2 separate regions of the Homo sapiens genome follow, and region 1 is linked to region 2. A link means that fine-mapping ties the variant in region 2 to the expression of a gene that starts in the linked region. Tissue or cell type: whole blood. Region 2 holds a variant in brackets; the other region holds the start of a gene. All regions are shown on one strand. Distances are from middle to middle.

Region 1 (5,377 bases), 83 kb before region 2:
TAGTCTATTATTTATGTTCATTTAGATTTAGTCATGTTTTTTACTTTGTTCTGTTTTTACTGCACCAGGCAAGTGGACCCCAGTTTGGTTCTATAACAATTTGTAGTTTTACTATAATGCGTGGATTTCTTCTACTAGGTGTAGATTTCTTTGACTAGATAAATAAAAGGGTTTCTTTTATTTATCCCACTAGAGAGTTATATGGCATCTTATATCTGTGACCTGGTTCCTTTCATAGGTACTAAAAATATTCAGCCCTTATTTCTTCAAATACTGTCTCTGCCCTAGCTTTATCTCTCGTTAAACTTAGTTCGATCCTCTTACTGTATTCTCTATCTCTCTTACTCTGTCTTCTGTAGGGTACATTTTTTGTTTCTCAATGCTTTATTCTAGATAATTTCTTGTGACCTACCTTCCTTTCAATTTATTCTACATTCAGCAGTGTCTAATCTGCCATTAACTGAGTTCTTAATTTAGTTACTGTATTTCTCAATCATAGAAGAGAAGTCTATTTACTTCTTTTTTTAAATCTGCTCTATCACTTTGTATAGTTTTTAGGTACCTGCCAAAATTGTCCAAGTTATCTTTTTTATTTCTTCAGGCAAAGAAAATATGATTTTATTTTACTTTTTTTCCTAAAAACTCTAATAGGTAAGCAAGAAAATATACATATGTTTTAAGCCAGGGTCTTGCTCTGTCACCCAGGCTGAAGGGCAGTGGTATGATCGTGACTTACTGCAGCATCAACCTGCTGGGCTCAAGCGATCCTCCCATCTCAGCCTCTTGAAGAGCTGGGACTTCAGGGCTGTGCCACCATACCTGGCTAATTTTTGATATTTTGTAGAGACAGGGTTTTGCCATGTTGCCCAGGCTGGTCTTGAACTCCCGAGCTCAAGCAATCCACCTGCCTTGGCCTCCCAAAGTGCTGGGATTATAGACATAAACCACTGTGTCCAGCCCAAGAAAATATTATTTTGCGGTTTGCATCAAATAATTCTAAAAGCAGTTGTTTCTGCAGGTCTATTTCCAATGTTTGTGTTTCTGCTGGTTCTCACTAAGAATCTAGTTTCTTTGTGTACCTGGTTATCTTTAATTCTGTATTTGACATTGTCTATGAAAACTTATGTGTAGGAAAAATGTCGGCCCTACAATTATAAGGCTTTCCTCCACCTATTTGCTTTTGCCAAGCATCTGGTGACACCATAGTCAGAGACAGTCTTAAACCAAGATAATGTCTGAGACAGGCAATTTGATGCAGTCTGTAAATTCCTTTTAAGCTGTTCCATTTTCAATTCATCCTCACCCTGAGGCTGTTGCCCTTTGGGGTCCCAGTTATTGTAAGGAGGGTCTTCTTCTTCTTCTTCTTTTTTTTTTTTTTTTGAGATGGAGTTTTGCTCTTGTCGCTCAGGCATGGAGAAACCCCATCTCTACTAAAAATACAAAATTACAGGCATGGTGATGCGTGCCTGTAATCCCAGCTACTCTGGAGGCTGAGGCAGGAGAATCACTTGAACCCGGGAGGCAGAGGTTGCGGTGAGCCAACATCGCGCCACTGCACTCCAGCTTGGGCAACAAGAGCGAAACTCCGTCTCAAAAACAAATTTATATATTATATATATATGTATATATATATACACATACACACACACACACACACACACGTATTCCAGAATTTTATTTTTAAATTTTATTGTTGTTTTCTACAGTGGGTTGATACAAATATCCTAGCCCATCATCTCCCCACCCTGCTTTCCTTTTCTTCATGGTCCTCACAATCGCCTGGGGTATTATCTATTTATTTTTCTATTTGTTATTGTCAATTAATTTCAATGTAATTAAGTTCCAAGAAAGCAGGAACTGCGTTTTGTTAACTGCTGTATACGCAGGGCCAATAAGAATGTGGGGGTAGATCTTACACACTCAGAATAGATAACTGAATGAATGAATGAATGAATGAGTGAATGAATGAATGACAGGGAAGGCGCTTCACCGGAAAGGCTGAAGGAGGTCTCCCAAGGACCGCTGTGAGGAAACGGGGGGCGGCGTGGGTGGGTGGCCGCTACCCACGGTTCCGGACGGCCCTCGGGGGCGCGCTCGGGCGGCTTCCAGCTTCCGGGTTCGAGGGCGCGCGCTGCTTCCCGGGAGAGGGCGGGCTCCGTGGCAGCCCCCTGTGGGCGGAGCCGGCGGCCGGGGCTCACAACCCGCCGGAAGACGCGCGGGTTGTGGCAGCTGCAGCGGGACCGCGTGGGGTGGGCCCCGGGACCGCCAGGGCTGCAGCGAGAGCGGCCGGCGGTGCAAGCGGCCGGGAGGGCGCGGCCGGAGGCAGAGGCCAGGCGAGACACCCGGCTGCGGCCTAAGAGGCCAGGCTGGGTGGGCTTGGCTGCAGCCGCCAGCCCCGTGTTAAAGCGGCAGCCAGGGAGGTGTATCCTCCCCGGGGTCTGCAAGACGCCGGCTCAGGGCATCCCTCCCATTCCGGCCCTCAAAGCCTCGCTCCTGGGGGCGCTGCTGGGAAAGCCCACCCGCCTGGGCGGGCCCTTGATGGGAATGTGGAGCAGACCCTCGTCCACTCCGGAGGCCGAGGGTCCTCCGGGCTTCCGAAGGAAGCCGACCTCAACGCTGGACGCTTCTTGGAGAATGATTGCGTTGAGTGGAGATGTGGTCTGTCTATAAAAGGCCGGGAGGGAACAATATCTGTTACCACTCAGTCCGTCTCTAAAGAGACACTCTTTACCGCTGAAAACCTCAAGAGTGAGCACTCCCACGCCCCCGTCTCTGGTCCTACCTGGGTCCAAGGCCGATGTGGTGAGTAGGAGTCTGTGTGCAGTCTTTGAGTCCGAGGGTGGCATGTCTGGGAGCACTGTGAGGGTGGGGCATCTTCGATATGAAGCTTCTCAGCCATTAACTGTTTCCCGAGTAAGATTCGAAAATTCGTGCACTTTGGTAACAAGACTTTTTATGTATTCAGGGGTGGGATATTTCTCACAAGCTCCAATTCCTAGAACACACGCAGCTCCTGTCTCTGCATATAGTCACACACACACACACACACACACACACGCCTATAAGTCACATACCCATCCTTCTCCAACAAACTTCAAAAAGTTGGGCCAGCTCCCTTCCCACGTAGCTCCGACTGTTCTTGGAGTGCCGTATACTTTGGACCTGGTCACGGTCAAAGCACCTGCTCAGATTCTAGGGTTTGGTTGAGATGATGGATTTGAGTTGTTTCCAAATTTGCCTATTACTATTCTGCAGTAGTCCTCATTATACTAAATTTACACCATTTGAAGACATACCCTCTTCCCCAATTTTAACATTTCTGAAACCAAGATGCATCTTCCCAGTGTGGTTCCAAGGAACTTGCCAGCTGCTGGGCATCTGCGTGGGTGGTGACGTGGCTGTCACTGCTTGTTCATGCCAAAATGCAGCTATGTCATTATTCTGTCAGTTGAGATATTTTGAACTTTAAATTCAGATTTAATGGTTTCTAAAAATAACTTTAAAAATTAATACTATGATTCAGCAATATGATAACAGGTTTATAACAATGTTCATTAAGGGTTTACTGTATGCCTAGCATTGTCTCAACCAACATTACAACTCTATAGAATACAATTATTATCTCCATTTTATAGATTAAGAAACTGAAGCTGAGAGTTGAAGTGTCATAGAGCTTTTAAGTGCAAGTGTCAGGTTTCTAAGCCAGGCTGTCTGATTTCAAAGCCTGCCCTCTTAAACCCCGTCTGTGTCCAGGCAGAAGATGCATGCAGCTTACAAGGAGGGAAGATGAGGCATGGTCTGTGCATGTTTGTACATCTTTGCATGTTTGTGTATGTATGTATAGAACTGGAGATAGAGCCACGTCCAGGAACATGTATTATATTTATTCCTGCATGGATATTTTTCTTTTGGGTATTTTGCAGTTTTAAATATATTTCTGCAGATTCTGGAGTTCTGGAGACAAGTGCTTCTGGATCCCTCTTCCCTTCCCTTTTGCTCCTCTAAAGAGTATGGAGACATGAACTCAAACCTAACTAACTGGCTGCCTCCCAAAGAAAGTGCTTGATTTAAAGGGGAGTTTGTTTTCCAGAATTGTTAAAGTCACATCAGTCTCTAGGAACCCCCAGGTCCTGGTGCTGCAGGGACACACCAGAGTCCTGAGGGCAGGTGATTGGAATCTGAGCAACACCCCACAACTGTGAAGCGTCTCATCAAGAGCTTCTGGCAATTTCCTCACCAGAAGTGGACAAGTCCAGTAAGGCAGGCATCATGCCACAGCAGCTCCTGATCACCCTGCCTACCGAGGCCAGCACCTGGGTGAAGCTGCAACATCCAAAGAAGGCCGTGGAGGGGGCGCCCCTGTGGGAGGATGTGACTAAAATGTTTGAAGGAGAAGGTGAGAATGGACTGATGGAGGGGGAAGAAGGGGATCTCATTTGTGTGTGAAAAGATAGGTACACACTTCATTGAAGTGGAGAGAAGGAGGGAGAGAAGGTCTCTGGGGGTTCATTCTTGTGGTTTTTGGGAAGGGGACAGCTGTGAGGGAAAATCTTGGGGTCCAGCATGGACTCCTTGTGACACGTGCTTGCAGCTGCTCTCATCTCCCATCTTCAAATACTACATGTAGCAGGAAGACAGAATACAAGGTGTTCCCCACCAGTGGTGCCTGAGTGTGGGAATGTGATTCACAGACAGGTCTAAGATTTCTGCCCTCCTTAAGTCCTCTAAGGGTTTTCCTGCACAGGTTCCAGTCATTTTAGCCCCAACCCAATATTTATCACAAGTATCAGTTTTTTCTTTTCATCTGCTGAGAGGCAGGAATGACATGCCAGATTACTCTCATGTTACCTTGAACTGTGGGAGAGATGCCCAACAATCACACCTTATTTAGTGGTCTGGTTAGGAGTAAATAGAAGGATGGAGGAAGTCATGTGTCTCATGTGGTGTTTTAATTCATACCTTTAATGCTTTACACTCAGCCAGTATTTATTGTTCTAGCTGTGTCAGGCAGGGACTTTGGCTAAACATCTTAAAAGATGGAAAAATGAATAATTATCTCTAATTCTGATTACCAATGGATTGAGATAGGCATACACCTCAATCAAAATAATAGAAAGCAGCCTAAGAAAAGTTATTTTGGAACACAAGCGACGGAAAACTTTGTTCTGGTTGTGATTTTTTTTTTTTTTTGGTGATGGAGTCTCGCTGTGTCGCCCAGGCTGGAGTGCAGTGGTGCAATCTCAGCTCACTGCAACTCCTGCCTCCCAGGTTCAAGCGATTCTCCTGCCTCAGCCTCCTGAGCAGCTGGGACTACAGGTGCCTGCCACCACGCCTGGCTAATTTTTGCATTGCTTTTTACATATTTGATAGCAGTTTT
Region 2 (5,377 bases):
AGAAGCAGCAGACCTTCGTGGTGAGTGTTACAGCTCATAAAGGCACTGTGGAGCCAAAGAGTGTGCAGCAGCAAGATTTATTGCAAACAGCAAAAGAACAAAGCATCCACAAGGTGGAATGGAATGCCAGTGAGCTGCCACTGCTGGCTCTGGCAGCCTGCTTTTATTCCCTTATCTGGCCCCACCCACATCCTGCTGATTGGTCCATTTTATAGAGAGCTGATTGGTCTGTTTTACAGAGAGCTGATTGGTCCATTTTGACAGGGTCTGTTTTGATTGGTCTGTTTTACAGAGAGCTGATTGATGCATTTACAATCCCTGAGCTAGACACAAAAGTTCTCCAAGTTCCCACTAGATTAGCTAGACACAGAGCACTGATTGGTGTGTTTACAAACCTTGAGCTAGACACAGGGTGCTGACTGGTGTGTTTACAAACCTTGAGCTAGACACAGAGTGCTGATTGGTGTATTTACAATTCCTTAGCTAGACATAAAGGTTCTCCAAGTCCCCACCAGATTAGCTAGACACAGAGCACTGATTGGTGCATTTACAAACCTTAAGCTAGACACAGGGTGCTGATTGGTGTGTTTACAAACCTTGAGCTAGACACAGAGTGCTGACTGGTGTATTTACAATCCCTTAGCTAGACATAAAGGTTCTCCAAGTCCCCACCAGATTAGCTAGACACAGGGCACTGATTGGTGCGTTTACAAACCTTGAGCTAGATACAGGGTGCTGATTGGTGTGTTTACATACCTTGAGCTAGACTCAGAGTGCTGATTGGTGTGTTTACAAACCTTGAGCTAGACTCAGAGTGCTGAGTGGTGTATTTACAATCCCTTAGCTGGACATAAAGGTTCTCCAAGTCCCCACCAGATTAGCTAGATACAGAGTGCTGATTGGTGCATTTACAAACCTTAAGCTACACACAGAGTGCTGATTGGTGTATTTGCAATCCTTTAGCTAGACATAAAGGTTCTCCAAGTCCCCACTAGATTAGCTAGACACAAAGCACTGTTTGGTGCATTTACAAACCTTAAGCTAGACACAGGGTGCTGATTGGTGTGTATACAGCCCTCCAGCTAGACATAAAAGTTCTCCAAGTCCCCACTAGACTCAGGAGCCCAACTGGCTTCACCTAGTGGATCCGCCCGCCAGTCCCGTGCCCTGTGCCCGCACTCCTCAGCCCCTGGGTGGTGGATGGGACCAGGCACAGCAGAGCAGACGGTGGCGCTCATCGGGGATGCTCCGGCCGTGCAGGAGCCCACTGCGGGGGGGAGGCTCGGGCATGGCGGGCTGCAGGTCCCCAGCCCTGCCCCGCGGGGAGGCAGCTGAGGCCCAGCGAGAATTCGAGCTCAGCGCTGGCGGGTCAGCACTGCTGGGGGACCTCCGCAGCTGCTGGCCTGGGTGCTAAGCCCCGCACTGCCTGGGGCCAGCGGCGCCCAGCCGGCCGCTTGGAGTGTGGGGCCCGCAGAGCCCACGCCCACCCGGAACTCGCGCTGGCCTGCCAGCGCGGCACGCAGCCCCGGTTCCCGCCCGCGCCTCTCTGTCCACACCTCCCCACAAGCCGAGGAAGCCGGCTCCAGCCTAGGCCAGCCCAGAGAGGGGTTCCCACAGTGCAGCGGTGGGCTCACTCTGTCACCCAGGCTGGAGTGCAGTGGTACGATCTCGGCTCACTGCAACCTCTGCCTCCTGGGTTCAAGCGATTCTCCTGCCTCAACCTCCTGAGTAGCTGAGATTACAGGCCCGTGCCACCACACCTGGCTAATTTTTGTATTTTTAGTAGAGATGGGGTTTCAACATGTTGGCCAGGCTGGTCTCTCCTGACCTCAGGGTGATCAGCCCACCTTGGCCTCCCAAAGTGCTGGGATTACAGGCATGAGCCACCTTGCGCAGCCCAAATCATACAGTTTGAAATGAAACTTTGCTACAACCAGCTTTTGCTGTAGCACACACATACACCACTGAACCTGTTTGAAATACAGTTTTTTTCTTTTTCATGATTCATCTTTGAGTAGCTCCAGGCTGAAGGACTGAGGTACCAGTAAAAACTTAAAGGCACAAATTCTCCTTGAAGACCGTCTCCCTTTTCTTTGTCCTCATATTTTATGTTGCTTTATCTTTGAAATTTTTCATGAAAAGGAAATTAGTGGGTTCAAATGAAATTGTCCTTTAGAGCATGAGTACTTGTTCCCATGGACAAATCTTTTTCTCCCCTTGCTCTTCCTGGCCTGAAACACAGGAAACCAGAGTCAGAAGTTATCTCCCTCTCCCTGTGATGCCTTGAGATTTTTTCTGCATTGTTTTATGCCTGAAATCCAATAGTCTTCCTCCATTAGAAAATACTGTTATACCAAATAATTCTAGATGAATAACAAAGATCTTTGTAGGCCTTCATTTTATGTTTTTTTCTTAACTGTTTTATTATCATGACACAGATTGTAATATTACGAATTTTTGGACGTTTCAAAAGGTCAAGAAGAAAAAGATGTTGGAAAGCAATGAGTGAGTCCTTTTGATTTTTAACTTATTCCCCATGTCCCTATACTTACTTCCTGTGCTTTATCTTTTTTTTTTTTTTTTTTTTTTTTTTTTTTTGAGATGGAGGCTCGCTCTGTCACCTAGGCTAGAGTAAAGTGGCACGATCTGGGCTCAC[C/T]GCAACCTCTGCCTCCTTGGTTCAAGCGATTCTCCTGCCTCAGCCTCCCGAGTAGCTGAGATTACAGGCACGTGCCACCACACCCAGCTAATACTTATATTTTTAATAGAGATGGGGTTTCACCATGTTGGCCAGGCTGGTCTCAAACTCCTGACCTCAGGTGATCTGCCCGCCTTGGCCTCCCAAAGTGCTGGGATTACAGGCGTGAGCCACTGTGCCCGGCTTATTTTTCTTTATGTTTTTGCTTCATAAGAGGTTCTGTTAAGCAGTGATTCCCAACTCTCGCTGACATTAGAGTTGCTGGGGAAGCTTTAACAAAAAAATGCCCCAGAGAGATTCTGATTTGATTGGCTTGGAGTAGAATTCAGGCACTGATATCTTTAAAAACTCTCCCCAGTGTTGAGAAACAAATTTAGAGAGTTGAGAAGTAGTATGTTAAATTACAGAATCGTACTGAGTTTTCGTAGTCTGATAATACAATTTGCTTTGCTTTTCTTAAATTTGCATTGAGATGGGATTTGAAGCATATTGTGCTCTTTTGAATGTTGAAGTTGCATTGTAGAAGTTTAGAAGCTCTGGCTATGGGTTATCTAAGTTGATGTTTTGAGGAGGCATATTAATGTTATATACTTGGCTGACTTTTAAGGTTGTGTTGTAGCATGAGGAACACAAATAAAACAATTGTAAATAAAAAAAAATTTGAAGTGCCTGTGGGACATCCAATTAAAGAAGTCTAGATGGTAGGTAGTAGATATCAAGGTCTGAGAGAGATCCCGGGTAAAGGTACAAATTTATGAGTTGTCACCATAGATTGGTCATTAAAGCCATGGACTTGGTTGATACGTAAGAAGAGAAGAAAAAGAAACAGAGAAGAACCTTGAGGAACACAAATATTTAAGAAATGGGCATAAAAAGAGGAGATTATATTGCAGAAAGGCAACATGGTATATAGACCAACTAGGAGGAGAGGTGAGAGATCACAGTGGCTCAGAAAAAAGTGGTGGCAGCAGAGATACTTATTTATTTATTTATTTAGCGACAAGGTCTCTCTCTGTCACCCAGGCTGGAACACAGTGGTGCAATCATGGCTCACTGCAGCCTCGTCCTCCTGGGCTCAAGTGATCTTCCTATCTCGGCCTCTTGAGTAGTTGGGACTACAGGTGCATGCCACCACACCCAGCTATTTTTTTTTCTTTCTTTTTCTTTTGAGATGGATTTTTCACTCTTGTTGCACAGGCTGGAGTGCAATGGCGCAATCTCAGCTCACTGCAACCTCCGCCTCCTGGGTTCAAGTGATTCTCCTGCCTCAGCCTCCCAAGTAGCTGGCATACACCACCACAGCCAGATAATTTTGTATTTCTAGTAGAGATGGGGTTTCTCCATGTTGGTCAGGCTGGTCTCGAACTCCCGTCCTCAGGTGATCTGCTTGCCTCGGCCTCCCAAAGTGCTGGGATTACAGGCATGAGCCACCACGCCTGGCCTTATTTTTTTTCTTTTTGGTAAAGATGGAGTCTCCCTATATTGCCCAGGCTGGTCTTGAACTCCTGGGCTCAAATGATCTTCCCACTTGGGCCTCTCATGGTGTTGGGATTACAGGCGTCAGCCACCACACCCAGCAAAGAGATATTTAGATTTAGTGATGGAGCAGATGTGAGGGAGGAGGGAGAAAAAGAAATCAAGGATGACTCATATTTTTCTGACTTAAACATTTTGGTGGTTGGAGGTATGATTTCCTGAACTCAATTTCCTGATCATTTCCTAAACATGAAAGAAAAGCAGGAGATAAAGTTGGAATTTAGCATGTTAATTTAGATGCCTTTGAGACATCCAAGTAGGTGTTTGTTTCATTGGGTAGATATTTATTGATTACCTATTCTAAGTCAGGCACTGTGTTTCAAACTGGATATTCATCTGGCACGTACTTGGGTCTGTAACTGTCTGGCTTGAGGTCTCAGCTGCAAGTGTACATTTGAGTTGTCAGCATTCAAATGGCATTTGAAGCTATACGAATAGATGACATCACATAGGAGGAGTAAGTAGAGTAAGAAGAGGGCTTAGGTTCCAACCTGGGGAACCCCAACATTGATGAGTAAAGGAGATTGAGAGTGATCAGAGAGGTAAGAGAAAAACCAGGTTACTATGAGAGGAAACCAGGTTACTATGAGAGGAAAGAGTTTTGAGGAAGACTGTGTAGTCAACAGGGCCAAATAATGTCAAGAAATCAAGTATAAAAAGGATTGAAAACTTTCCATTGGATTTAGTGGCAAGGAAGTCATTAGTTATCTTAATGAAGATGAATTTCTGAAATTGGAATTGCTGGGTCAAAAGATGTTTAATAAATATTGCCAAATTGCTCCCCAAAAAAAGTTTATAACAATTGATACTCCTTCCAACGGCATATGAGGGTATCTGTTTCCTCATACCCTCACTAATGAATATTATAAGTCTTAATCTTTGCCCAATGGGTTGAGAGAAATAATGTCTCATTGTTATCTGAATGTACATTTCTTTTTCTTTTTTTTTTTTGAGATGGAGTATTGCTCTTGTCGCCCAGGCTGGAGTGCAATGGCGCGATCTTGGCTCACTGCAACCTCTGCCTCCCGCCTTCAAGCAATTCTCCTGCCTCAGCCTCCCGAGTAGCTGGGATTACAAGCATGTGCCACCATGCCCGGCTAATTTTGTATTTTTAGTAGAGGCGGGGTTTCTCCATGTTGATCAGGC

Which allele goes with the higher level. Alleles are on the strand shown, and positions count from the first base shown. SD is a standard deviation of normalised expression in the study named.
As copies of C replace T in region 2, the expression in whole blood of the gene that starts at base 2,198 in region 1 goes up (small effect, 0.34 SD a copy in Lepik 2017).

What was found. PIP is the estimated chance that this variant, and not a neighbour inherited with it, causes the effect. A credible set is the group of variants that fine-mapping cannot tell apart.
Region 1: ZFP69 starts here. The variant in region 2 is the best candidate, but not a certain one, in a credible set for the expression of ZFP69 in whole blood (Lepik 2017, PIP 0.55).

Annotation. Positions count from the first base shown.
Region 1 is chr1:40,475,093-40,480,469 of GRCh38, forward strand. ZFP69 (ZFP69 zinc finger protein) reads left to right here and starts at 2,198. Exons shown (of 6, transcript NM_001320179.2): 1 at 2,198-2,802; 2 at 3,944-4,396. The coding sequence starts at 4,270. RefSeq lists a silencer at 1,937-2,406.
Region 2 is chr1:40,557,707-40,563,083 of GRCh38, forward strand. It overlaps the pseudogene LOC100328982. Among named protein-coding and RNA genes, the nearest start is that of ZNF684, 29 kb to the left of the region's middle. The variant C/T (reference allele first, on the strand shown) is at 2,657.